2 separate regions of the Homo sapiens genome follow, and region 2 is reported to be linked to region 1. The links are microRNA targets in miRTarBase. Many come from high-throughput screens and were not tested one by one. Region 1 holds a microRNA gene; the other region holds the end of a gene's coding sequence.

Region 1 (5,365 bases):
CCAGGGTGGGGCAGGGGGCAGGTGCGATGAGGTGCCTAGGGACCTAGAGCAGGGAGGTCCTTGGAAGCACAAGTGTGTTGACAATGGAACTGAAGCCAAACCTCAGCATCAGGGCCCTTGAACGTGACCTCAGTGGAGAGGGCATGGGCTTAGGAGTCCCAGGGCTCGAACTAGAATTCTTCCTGGTCCTTGGCTCTCCACGTTTCCCCCAGCACGGTCTGCAGACCAGAGGCAACAAATGCCTCTTAAAATGTCCTGACACTGTGGGGTGGGGCAGGAGGGGACAGAGCCACATTTGGGAAATTGTCTGATCACCAAGGGGGTGGTCTGGAGTGAGGAAACTGGAGTGAGAGTTTAGCAATCACAGCAAGATTTGGGGAAATGTCGCAGGGTCTGGAATTCAGATTAGGCAATTCCGATCAGTCACGGGCCAGGCTGTTGGCAAAGCTTCCCTCAGACCCGGTCAGCGCAGTCTCTCAGGCTCCGTGCCACTGCATCTGAGGGCCCAGCTTCGAGGATGTGCTCAGGAAATAGTTGCCAACAAGTGAGTTGTGGAGGCCTGAGTAGGATGGGGATCTCACTTTACAAGAAAATAATAGTGAGGTACAGGATGGAGGTGGAGCCAGGATACAGCCTGGATCTGCGTCCAGTGCTCTCACCCCAACCCCCAGAAGGGCTAACCTCATATAGCCTCGGAGCCCTGTGGACTGTGGGCTGCAGGTTTGGACAGCAGTGTCTTAGGCAGGTCCTCGGTGTACAGTCTACCTGGAGCTTGGGGGTCCAAGCAGCAAGGCCAGTCTGGCCCTGTGCCCTCTCTGCCTAAGCCCAAAAGCAGGGACCTTGCTAGCTCTAATCTCGTCAGTTTGTGGCTTCTCTGCCTCTTTTCCAGAGGAGGAGTGAGCAAGAGAGAGCCATGTAGCCGGACACTCATTTACAATTTCACTGAAGCATGAAATCGTTTCCTACCTTTACCAGATTATTACCTAAGTAGAAAATTGACTTGGAGTGGGAGGCGGCAGGAGAGTTACATACTTTTGAAAATTAAAAATGAAAAACTTTGTTGTTTAGGGTTTTTTGTTTTTCTTGGCCCCATTACCAGCAGGAAGACAGCAGCACAGGCTTTTAGGGGGTCAAGATACTGGAATGCAGTTTGCTTTTTGGCCATGTTTTCTTTTCTTTCTTTTTTTTTTTTTTTTCAGGCTTAATTCACTTTATTTTTCTTGTATAAAAACCCTGTTGTAGCCACAGCTGGAGCGTAGGTCCTCTGCATGGAGACTCTGGTGAGGGTCTTGACAAGGTGGTCAGTGAATTCCTGATCGGGAGACTTGGTGAATACAGTCTCCTTCCACAGGTCAGTGGGGCAGGTAGCTGTGGTCTTCGAGATGGCCTCAAGGGTGTTGGCCATGTTTTCTCTAGGTATATGAGTTTTGCCGCCTGTTGGCTGAGCCTTGAGTTCAAAGTACTGAACTGGGGCCTCGGGTCATGCCATTCACTGGACATTAATGACAGTGCTTTAGAATTCCCCTAGATTGAGCAAGTAGTGAACCTGTTTCTTGGCCATCACTCCATCACTCTGAGCGCCAGGTCCCCAGGCCTGGTGGAGAAGGGCAGGCAAGGGAGGCAGGGGAGGCGCTGCGTTGGCCCAGGATCCTGGCGTCAGCTGGGGGACCTGGGAAGCTCTGGCTTCGTGTTTCTCTGCTTTGCTGAGGCAAATCTGGATCACTTCCGTTAGGGTTCGGCATGTCCTGCTGTCATCTTGGGCCTCTGCGTTGGTCTCGAGGGTGAGTCACTGGCGGCCCCACCTCCAAGCCATCACTTGCCCCAGCTAGGTAAAGAGCCCTGTGGAGACACCTGGATTCAGAGAACATGTCTCCACTGAGCACTTGGGCCTTGATGGCGGCTCTTGTTCCAAGGCAAGGGGGATGTCTAGCCAGTACCGCTTGGAGCCCGGCCCAGGGCAGAGCCTGCTGGGAGCAGGGAAGTGGGTACGTGAGGCTCTGCTTGGGCGTCCACAGCAAACCCTGCAGGGATTAGTCACCTTGAACAGAGATCAGGCTCCAGAGCCGGACAGCCCATGTGAGAATCCTGGCTGTGGCAGTTTGGGTAGTTTCTTGGCCTCTCTGAGCTGTGGCTTCCCTAGCTCTAAAATGGGACTTACAAGAGAAGCTTCTGTAGAGGACTGTCATGAGAGTGGAATGTGGTCAAAGGCACCAGTTACTTAGCACTGCCCGGACACCAGCCTCAGTCAGGAACACCGTTTGCATGTTCTCTTAACCATGGGAGGCAGCCTCAACTGGAGCTTGCCTAGGGGGTGGCTCATCTGCAGGCCAGAGATGTTTGTCCCAGAGCTGGCTCATACCCTGAGAACAAAACCAGTTTCTGCAGGGCAGGGTGAGACCCAGCCACTCTTGCCTGTGTTGTCCTTGGCAACGTGGTTGCGGGAGAGGGGCTTGGTTTAGCAGAGGTGAGCAGAGAGTGGGTGGGAGGGGACAAGGGGGCTTGTGCTGAAGAGTGAGCCCTGAGAGGGCAGATGGGCAGGAGGGGCTCCTCTAACCTGTGGGCTTGTTCCCCCACAAGCTGACGCACCATGTCGGTCAGTGTCCATGAGACCCGCAAGTCGCGGAGCAGCACGGGGTCCATGAACGTCACCCTCTTCCACAAGGCCTCCCACCCGGACTGTGTGCTGGCCCACCTCAACACGCTTCGCAAGCACTGCATGTTCACCGACGTCACACTCTGGGCGGGCGACCGTGCCTTCCCCTGTCACCGTGCCGTGCTGGCCGCCTCTAGCCGCTATTTTGAGGCCATGTTCAGCCATGGCCTTCGGGAGAGCCGGGATGACACTGTCAACTTCCAGGACAACCTGCACCCGGAGGTGCTGGAGCTGCTGCTGGACTTTGCCTACTCCTCACGCATCGCCATCAACGAGGAGAACGCTGAGTCACTGCTGGAGGCAGGCGACATGCTGCAGTTCCACGATGTGCGGGATGCTGCCGCCGAGTTCCTGGAGAAGAACCTTTTCCCCTCCAACTGCCTGGGCATGATGCTGCTCTCGGACGCCCACCAGTGCCGCCGGCTGTATGAGTTCTCCTGGCGCATGTGCCTGGTGCACTTTGAGACGGTGAGGCAGAGCGAGGACTTCAACAGCCTGTCCAAGGACACACTGCTGGACCTCATCTCGAGTGATGAGCTGGAGACCGAGGACGAGCGGGTGGTCTTCGAGGCCATCCTCCAGTGGGTGAAGCACGACCTGGAGCCACGGAAGGTCCACTTGCCCGAGCTCCTCCGCAGCGTGCGTCTGGCCTTGCTGCCGTCCGACTGCCTGCAGGAGGCCGTCTCCAGCGAGGCCCTCCTCATGGCAGACGAGCGCACCAAGCTTATCATGGATGAGGCCCTGCGCTGCAAGACCAGGATCCTGCAGAATGATGGCGTGGTCACCAGCCCCTGTGCCCGGCCACGCAAGGCGGGCCACACGCTACTCATCCTGGGGGGCCAGACCTTCATGTGTGACAAGATCTACCAGGTGGACCACAAGGCCAAGGAGATCATCCCCAAGGCCGACCTGCCCAGCCCCCGGAAGGAGTTCAGCGCCTCAGCGATCGGCTGCAAGGTCTATGTGACGGGGGGCAGGGGCTCCGAGAACGGGGTCTCCAAGGATGTCTGGGTGTACGACACCGTACATGAGGAATGGTCCAAGGCGGCGCCCATGCTGATTGCCCGCTTTGGCCATGGCTCAGCTGAGCTGGAGAACTGCCTCTATGTGGTGGGGGGACACACATCCCTGGCAGGGGTCTTCCCGGCCTCGCCTTCTGTCTCCCTGAAACAAGTGGAGAAATACGACCCTGGGGCCAACAAGTGGATGATGGTGGCCCCCTTGCGGGATGGCGTCAGCAATGCCGCAGTGGTGAGTGCCAAGCTGAAGCTCTTTGTTTTCGGAGGAACCAGCATCCACCGGGACATGGTGTCCAAGGTCCAGTGCTATGACCCCTCGGAGAACAGGTGGACGATCAAGGCCGAGTGCCCCCAGCCTTGGCGGTACACAGCCGCTGCCGTCCTGGGCAGCCAGATCTTCATCATGGGAGGTGACACGGAATTCACAGCCGCCTCGGCCTACCGCTTTGACTGTGAGACCAACCAGTGGACGCGGATTGGGGACATGACTGCCAAGCGCATGTCCTGCCATGCCCTGGCTTCCGGCAACAAGCTCTATGTGGTCGGGGGCTACTTTGGGACCCAGAGGTGTAAGACTCTGGACTGCTATGACCCCACTTCAGATACATGGAACTGCATCACCACAGTGCCCTACTCACTTATCCCCACGGCCTTTGTCAGCACCTGGAAGCACCTGCCCGCGTGAGGAGCACCTGCTGAGCCCAGCCAGGTGAGTCCCTGGCAGCCCACGGCCACTCTGGGTCCGGAAAGGTCATGGGGGAATGCAGTCCCACCTCTTCCCACTGGGTGAAGGTCACCGTGTCTTCCAGGGAAGTCTGGGTGGGCAGCAGGTGGCTGGTGTGCTCTGGAGTCAAATCCTGGCTCTGCCTTCTATTTGCAGTTAACCTGGAGCAAATTATTGAACCAGTCTGCAAAATGGGGACAGTAACCATGGTTAGACCAACATGGTGGTTCCCAAACATGGTTATACTTCAGAATCACCCAGGGACCTTTTGACAGTGCTGTGTGGAGCATAGGTCAACCTGCAGAGTCTGAGGGTGCAGTCTCCACACAAGCCTGCTCTTACTTTTGACACCAGGTGCAACAAAGGGGGCCTCCCAAACCACCCTCGGTCAATTTTGCCAGAAAGACTTATAGAAGTCGCTGAAGGCTGTTATGCTCACAGTTACAGTTTATTATAGGGGAAAGATACAGATTAAGATAAGCCAAGGGAAGAGACATGTACTAAGGCAGAGTCCAGGAGAATGGCCCCCTCCCCATGGAGTCAGGACAGTGTTACTCTCCTGGCACTGATGAGTGATGATATGTATGAAGATTGCCAACCAGGCCCGGGCATGGTGGCTCATGCCTATAATCCCAGCACTTTAGGAGGGCTGAGGTGGGCAGATGGCTTGAGCCCAATTCAAGACCAGCCTGGGCAATGTGAAAGTCAGTCCTGGCCGGGCACAGTGGCTCATGCCTGTAACCCCAGCACTTTGAGAGGCCGAGGTGGGCAGATCATGAGGTCAGGAGATCGAGACCATCCTGGCTAACAAGTGAAACCCCATCCCTACTAAAAATACAAAAAATGAGCCAGGCATGGTGGTGCACACCTGTAATCCCAGCTACTTGGGAGGCTGAGGTAGGAGGATCACTTGAACCTGGGAGACAGAGGCTGCAGTGAGCCAAGATCATGCCGCTGTACTCCAGCCTG
Region 2 (5,365 bases), not on the chromosome of region 1:
GTCATTTTAGTCCTGGGGCCTGAGGGTTGCATTTTGAAAACGGTCTTAGTGGGTTCCCTAGGCCAGGATTCCTGGCTTCTTGTGTTCCCCTGGGCTGCCCCTTGGCTCCTGCGCCTACCACAGTGTCTGGTCCTTGGTAGAGTCGCCAAGTAAGCGTTGCTTTTTCACTCAGGGAGGTGGCTTGAGGGTGCACGCGAGTCGGATAGGAGCAAACCTGGGTCTCATCTCGGTGTCTCTTCTTGTCTCCCGGTGTGGCGCGGCGCAGGTGAAGGTGTGGTTCCAGAACCGGCGGATGAAGTGGCGGCACTCCAAGGAGGCCCAGGCCCAAAAGGACAAGGACAAGGAGGCTGGCGAGAAGCCATCAGGTGGAGCCCCGGCTGCGGATGGCGAGCAGGACGAGAGGAGCCCCAGCCGTTCTGAAGGCGAGGCTGAGAGCGAGAGCAGCGACTCCGAGTCCCTGGACATGGCCCCCAGCGACACGGAGCGGACTGAGGGGAGTGAGCGTTCTCTGCACCAAACAACAGTTATTAAGGCCCCGGTCACTGGCGCCCTCATTACCGCCAGCAGTGCTGGGAGTGGTGGGAGCAGCGGCGGCGGCGGCAATAGTTTCAGCTTCAGCAGCGCCAGCAGTCTTAGTAGCAGCAGCACCAGTGCGGGTTGCGCCAGCAGCCTTGGCGGCGGCGGCGCCTCGGAGCTTCTCCCTGCAACACAGCCCACAGCCAGCAGCGCTCCCAAAAGCCCCGAGCCAGCCCAAGGCGCGCTTGGCTGCTTATAGACTGTACTAGGGCGGAGGGGATCCGGGCCTTGCGTGCAGCCTCCCAACCATGGGCTGGGTTTTGTGCTTACTGTATGTTGGCGACTTGGTAGGGCAGGAGACGCAGCGTGGAGCCTACCTCCCGACATTCACGCTTCGCCCCACGCTGCTCCGACTGGCTGCAGCGGACACTGCCCAAAGCAGAGGGGAGTCTCAGTGTCCTGCTAGCCAGCCGAACACTTCTCTCCGGAAGCAGGCTGGTTCGACTGTGAGGTGTTTGACTAAACTGTTTCTCTGACTCGCCCCAGAGGTCGTGGCTCAAAGGCACTTAGGACGCCTTAAATTTGTAAATAAAATGTTTACTACGGTTTGTAAAGGCCGCTTGGCTTTGCTGGGGGTTGTTAAGGCCAGAGATCTACAACCGGACCTTAGTCCCGGGGACACTGTAGAATGCAGCAGCTGAAGGTGGTGGGGCTGGAGTTTCAGGGGAAGTGGCTCAACCTCAGAGCCATCTTGTTACAGACATCAGAGATGGGCGTCTGGGTTTAGAGGCTTCTAATTAAGAGATTTCTAGCGCCAACTGCCACTGAAAGTGCCCTCTGAGACCCTGAGTAGCCTGAGAGTGGAGCAGGCCATAGAAACTGTTAGGCCAGTGCAACAGATGGTTTCCCCATTCACAGTATGGACGAAATGAGTTCCTAGAGTACTCAGAGTTGGAATGGGGAAGGCAGTGATGCCAGGCGGGGTCAATCTAGGCACAGCTGTAATCACTATGTGGACGCGAAGCGCGGGCCCAGAGCCCTGCACAAACTTTTCCTTGTTCCGGGATGGGGTAGAGGACAGGTTTGCAATGTTGCTGAGGAAAGGACAGACATGACACAGTGGTTAGAGCTGGAAGCTTGGGTCTTAGAGTGCCAGGGCCCTGGTTGTAAACATGCCAAACAAAGAGGTGACTTCTTCAAGGTGAAGCAGAGGCACAGCCCAGATCAGAACTTGGACTTCCTGGCCTACATGTGGCCACGGATAGAACTATGAAGTTGCATCCTCCATTCCCTCATCCACGCAAAAATTTTCCTTTGCAATTTGGCCACTGGAGGTGCCTAGATGAGCTCTTTCTCCCCAAAGCTGCTGAGAGTCGTGAGGCAGTTTCCCCATCCCACTGCAGCTGGAAAATATGTAGTAAACCTTGACACTGCTACTAGGATGGGCAATTCAAAGATTTTTTGTTTGTTTATTTCTTTTAAAGGTGAAAAGTTAAACCTCTCTCCAGGACCTGTCCTCCTGCTTGTAACTGTGAAATGTCTGGAGTTGCTAAAAGCTCTTTGGGGGGATTTTATAGCAAATAGATTTCTTTGGGAAATCCTGATCAGTCTCAGTGCCAATCTCTTCGGCACTGAGCAAGTGAAGGACACAAGGTCTCTGGCAGACCCAGCATCCAGGCGGGGTGGCCAGTTCTCAGAATGAGTTGAGGAGAGGTGCTGAAGTCAGAGAGCCTAGGACACACCTCAGTCCCTTGGCCAGAGTGGGAAAGTTCTCAGCAGTCCTCTGTCTTGCTTATCTCCTCCACTTTTAGACATTCCCCTGGAGCTCATTCCAGGATCTCTGTTCTCGACTTTTCCATCCAGGGGTGAAGTAGAGGCAGCAGATTGAGCCTTCTTACACTTGCATAGCCAGATACAAGATACAGATAACAAGTCCCAAAGCCAACACATGGATGCAAAGATGATCATTTCCTGACCCAGCCAACCCCCTAAGTCCCCAAATCGAGATGATTCAAGAGCAGTGAGAATGGAGTAGGGGCAGAATGATCAGAGATGTACAATTTAGTCAAGAGAAAAGAAAGAGCATACCACAAGGGACCCCATCTTCAATAGGAACATGAACTAGCTGTTATCCCTAATTGTGTCACAAGAGTTTCCAGGCCAGGGCAGCCTCCCCACCTGGCCTGGGTGCGGGCCAGGGCTGGGATAGTTCTTCAAGCCTTCTGTAGGCTCTGCTGCCAAACTTCAGGATTCCCTCTGTACCTCAGTTTTGTCTGCATTATCGATATCAATTTCCCCTGACCCCACATATCGAAATTCTGGAAGCAGGATATCCCAAGCACATCGAATTTTGAGGTGCTTCAATCCAGCTCTGGCGTTAAGGAGAATAACGCGTCGGCACGCACACTTAGCTGAGGAGCGGAGTCTAGGGAAGAAAGGTGGGGAGGATGCTTTATACAAACCGCACTTTCCCCTGCTCCTCACCTGGCCCTGGAGGTTTCCGCTACCGCCAAACCCAGACCGTAGGTCCACGCCCTGGCCCCGGGGCTTTGAACGTGAAGAAAATCATCATCGGGGAATGTCATGATGTGATTTCAGGTAGAATTCTGCCTTATTTAGGCCACCTTTCGCCAGGCCAGGGGGCACGGCAGAGCTGGGGGGCTCAGGGATGAAGTGAGCCGGGGGGGTGAGCGCCTGAGGGCGGGAGTCAGAAGGACGAATACCACCCTAGTGCTCGCAGGAGGCGCCCCTGCTTCCGCCACCCCCACCCCCAGTTCCTAGTCAGTTATCACCTGAAGTTCTTGCGGGGCTTTACCCTAGCAGTGGAGTTCTTCCACATTTCATCAGAATCGGAATATCACAAGCCCCGGAAAAGTTACAGTTCATCTGGAAGAAGGGTAGCCACAGGTGGCCAGGAGGAAAGGCTAAAATTTGGCCGGATAGTCCCATCCCAGGGCTGCTCTCTCGACCCCGGGTACTGGGGTCTTCTTGGCAGCGCAAAATGCTAGCAAAGGCGGCCAAGCAGCTCGAAATTCTTCAACCAAGACCTAGAGTTTTCAGACCCGGAAGAGAAGGCCCAGCGCGGACCGTGCGGGGCGCTAGAACCGCTCAGGGTTGAGGCTTGGAGCAGGAGAGCGCGCGGGCCCCGGAGCAGAGCAGAGCAGAGCAGAACAGAGCCGCGGCCCCCGCCCCTCCTGCACACAACCCGAGACTCCAGCCAGCGATTGCTCTTTGAGCAAAGCTTTGCCTAGCCCGCTGAAGTCCCCGCTGCGCGGAGCCCTCCGAAAAAGGCTACCAAGGTGCACAGAGGCTCACAGAGGGATGGTGACCACGGTGCGTTTCCTTTGGGGCGGGGGTAGGGACTCAATACCCATCACCCATCCCCTCCAACGTGGACGCACACAGACCTGCAGATTCATATAGACACACGAGAGACAGGCAGTATACTGGCTATTTCAGCACTTTGCGGGTAAAACCACGCTAATAAATTTCCCCATTCTCCTCCATATGGCAAAGCAGAGAGGAGCCTCTGCCGCCTTATTCAGCCTGTGTGGGTGGGTAGGGCGCTTGTTTCCACAGAGAATTTGCCTAGCGCCAAGTTCCGCGGACTAAACCACTGAAGGCTGGCGCCGCGTTTCTCTCCCTTTTGCCCGCTTCAGTCGAGAGTGGGCATAGACATCCTTGCGAGCAGTGTGTCTCCCTCGCCTTCCTGTGCCCACCCCCCCGCCCGAGGCCAAAGTCGTCAGCCCCCGGGGCAGGTCCAGGCGAGGTCCTGCTTCCAAGGGAGGCTCAGGTCATTATACCAGCCAGGGAGATTTCCCGCTTCTCTCCCTCTACTCCCTGCAAAGAGTCGTGTGGATTGTAGGCGGGCTCAGACTCTGCTTGCCACAAATCCCTCTGACATCCTTTGCACCTCAGAGGCAACCATAAAGGAACTCCAGTCACTCTGGGATCTTTTCTCTGGCTGCCCTCTCTACCCAGGATCTGGAGTTTGATGTTGGCAGGGGATGAACTAGGTTGTGGCCAGCGCAGGGCAGGCACAGTAAGAGCGCCTAGGCTTCTTTTCAAGGTGTCAGAAGCCGAAGAAACAGGAGAGTGAAACCTGGGTTCTCCTGTCTGGGAAGGCAACCGCCAACGAAAGCTTCGGAGTCAGGAGAGGGGTGTGGTAGAAACCAGGGCTTGTAGCAGTGGATTTTCTGCGGGCACCTGGACTTGACTTGATCTGTTGAGCTTTAACCTGTTGAGCTTTAATCTGTTTCCACAGATCTGAACCCACCTCTGCTCAAGCCCACGCCTACCTGAGACTCTCAGTGGGCTGGATGGAGCACGAAACGGGGGAAGAGAAGTCAGAGGCTGAGGTTGATGCAGTCTCCCATCGTTTTCAGGCATCCTAGTCCCCTCTCCGGCTTCTTCCTCCCTTAAGAAGAAAAAGTAGGCAAGCTCAGCCCTCCCCCACGTGATGTAGTGACACCGCTTTAAAGATGACCAAGAGGACCCTAAACATGCTGGGACATCACATTCTCCTTCTTTAGCCTTGTGAGTTGGAAAGGACTGATTGCACACTCCAATGTATTTGTGAAGATGCGAGTTTTAAGGAGGATTTTAACTACAGGTATTTGGGCTAGGGAAGATTTTTTAAAATCCGAAATTTTGATTTAACTCATGCACTCATCTAGCTCACAGCCTCCATTTTTGAGGTCATGATGAGATTGGCTGGCGTCCCAAAGACAAACTAGTTGGCTTTCTCTGAAGCTTCCCTTCACACACTGGGATATTACAACCCACAGTGCCTACCCTCTGCCAGCCACTCTTGGGGAATCCAGACTGCTTACACAGGGTGGGGAGCACT

What was found. The annotated mature microRNA hsa-miR-1276 reads UAAAGAGCCCUGUGGAGACA and lies in region 1 at 1,831-1,850, shown strand. An mRNA with a match to its seed (bases 2 to 7 or 8) in the 3' UTR can be bound and repressed. Matches are read on the target gene's strand: a 7mer-m8 pairs with bases 2 to 8, a 7mer-A1 pairs with bases 2 to 7 and ends in A, and an 8mer does both.
Region 2: miRTarBase lists HLX as a target of hsa-miR-1276. The part of its 3' UTR that is shown has no 7-base or 8-base seed match.

What each region holds. Positions count from the first base shown.
Region 1 is chr15:85,767,033-85,772,397 of GRCh38, reverse strand. It overlaps MIR1276 (microRNA 1276), which reads left to right and starts at 1,820; the gene lies at 1,820-1,902. It overlaps KLHL25 (kelch like family member 25), which reads left to right. Exons shown (of 3, transcript NM_022480.4): 2 at 2,578-4,381. The coding sequence starts at 2,588. The coding sequence ends at 4,357. RefSeq lists enhancers at 1,516-2,288, 2,289-3,063, 3,064-3,837, 3,838-4,612.
Region 2 is chr1:220,883,930-220,889,294 of GRCh38, forward strand. It overlaps HLX (H2.0 like homeobox), which reads left to right. Exons shown (of 4, transcript NM_021958.4): 4 at 266-1,130. The coding sequence ends at 775. Among named protein-coding and RNA genes, the nearest start is that of HLX-AS1, 6.5 kb to the left of the region's middle.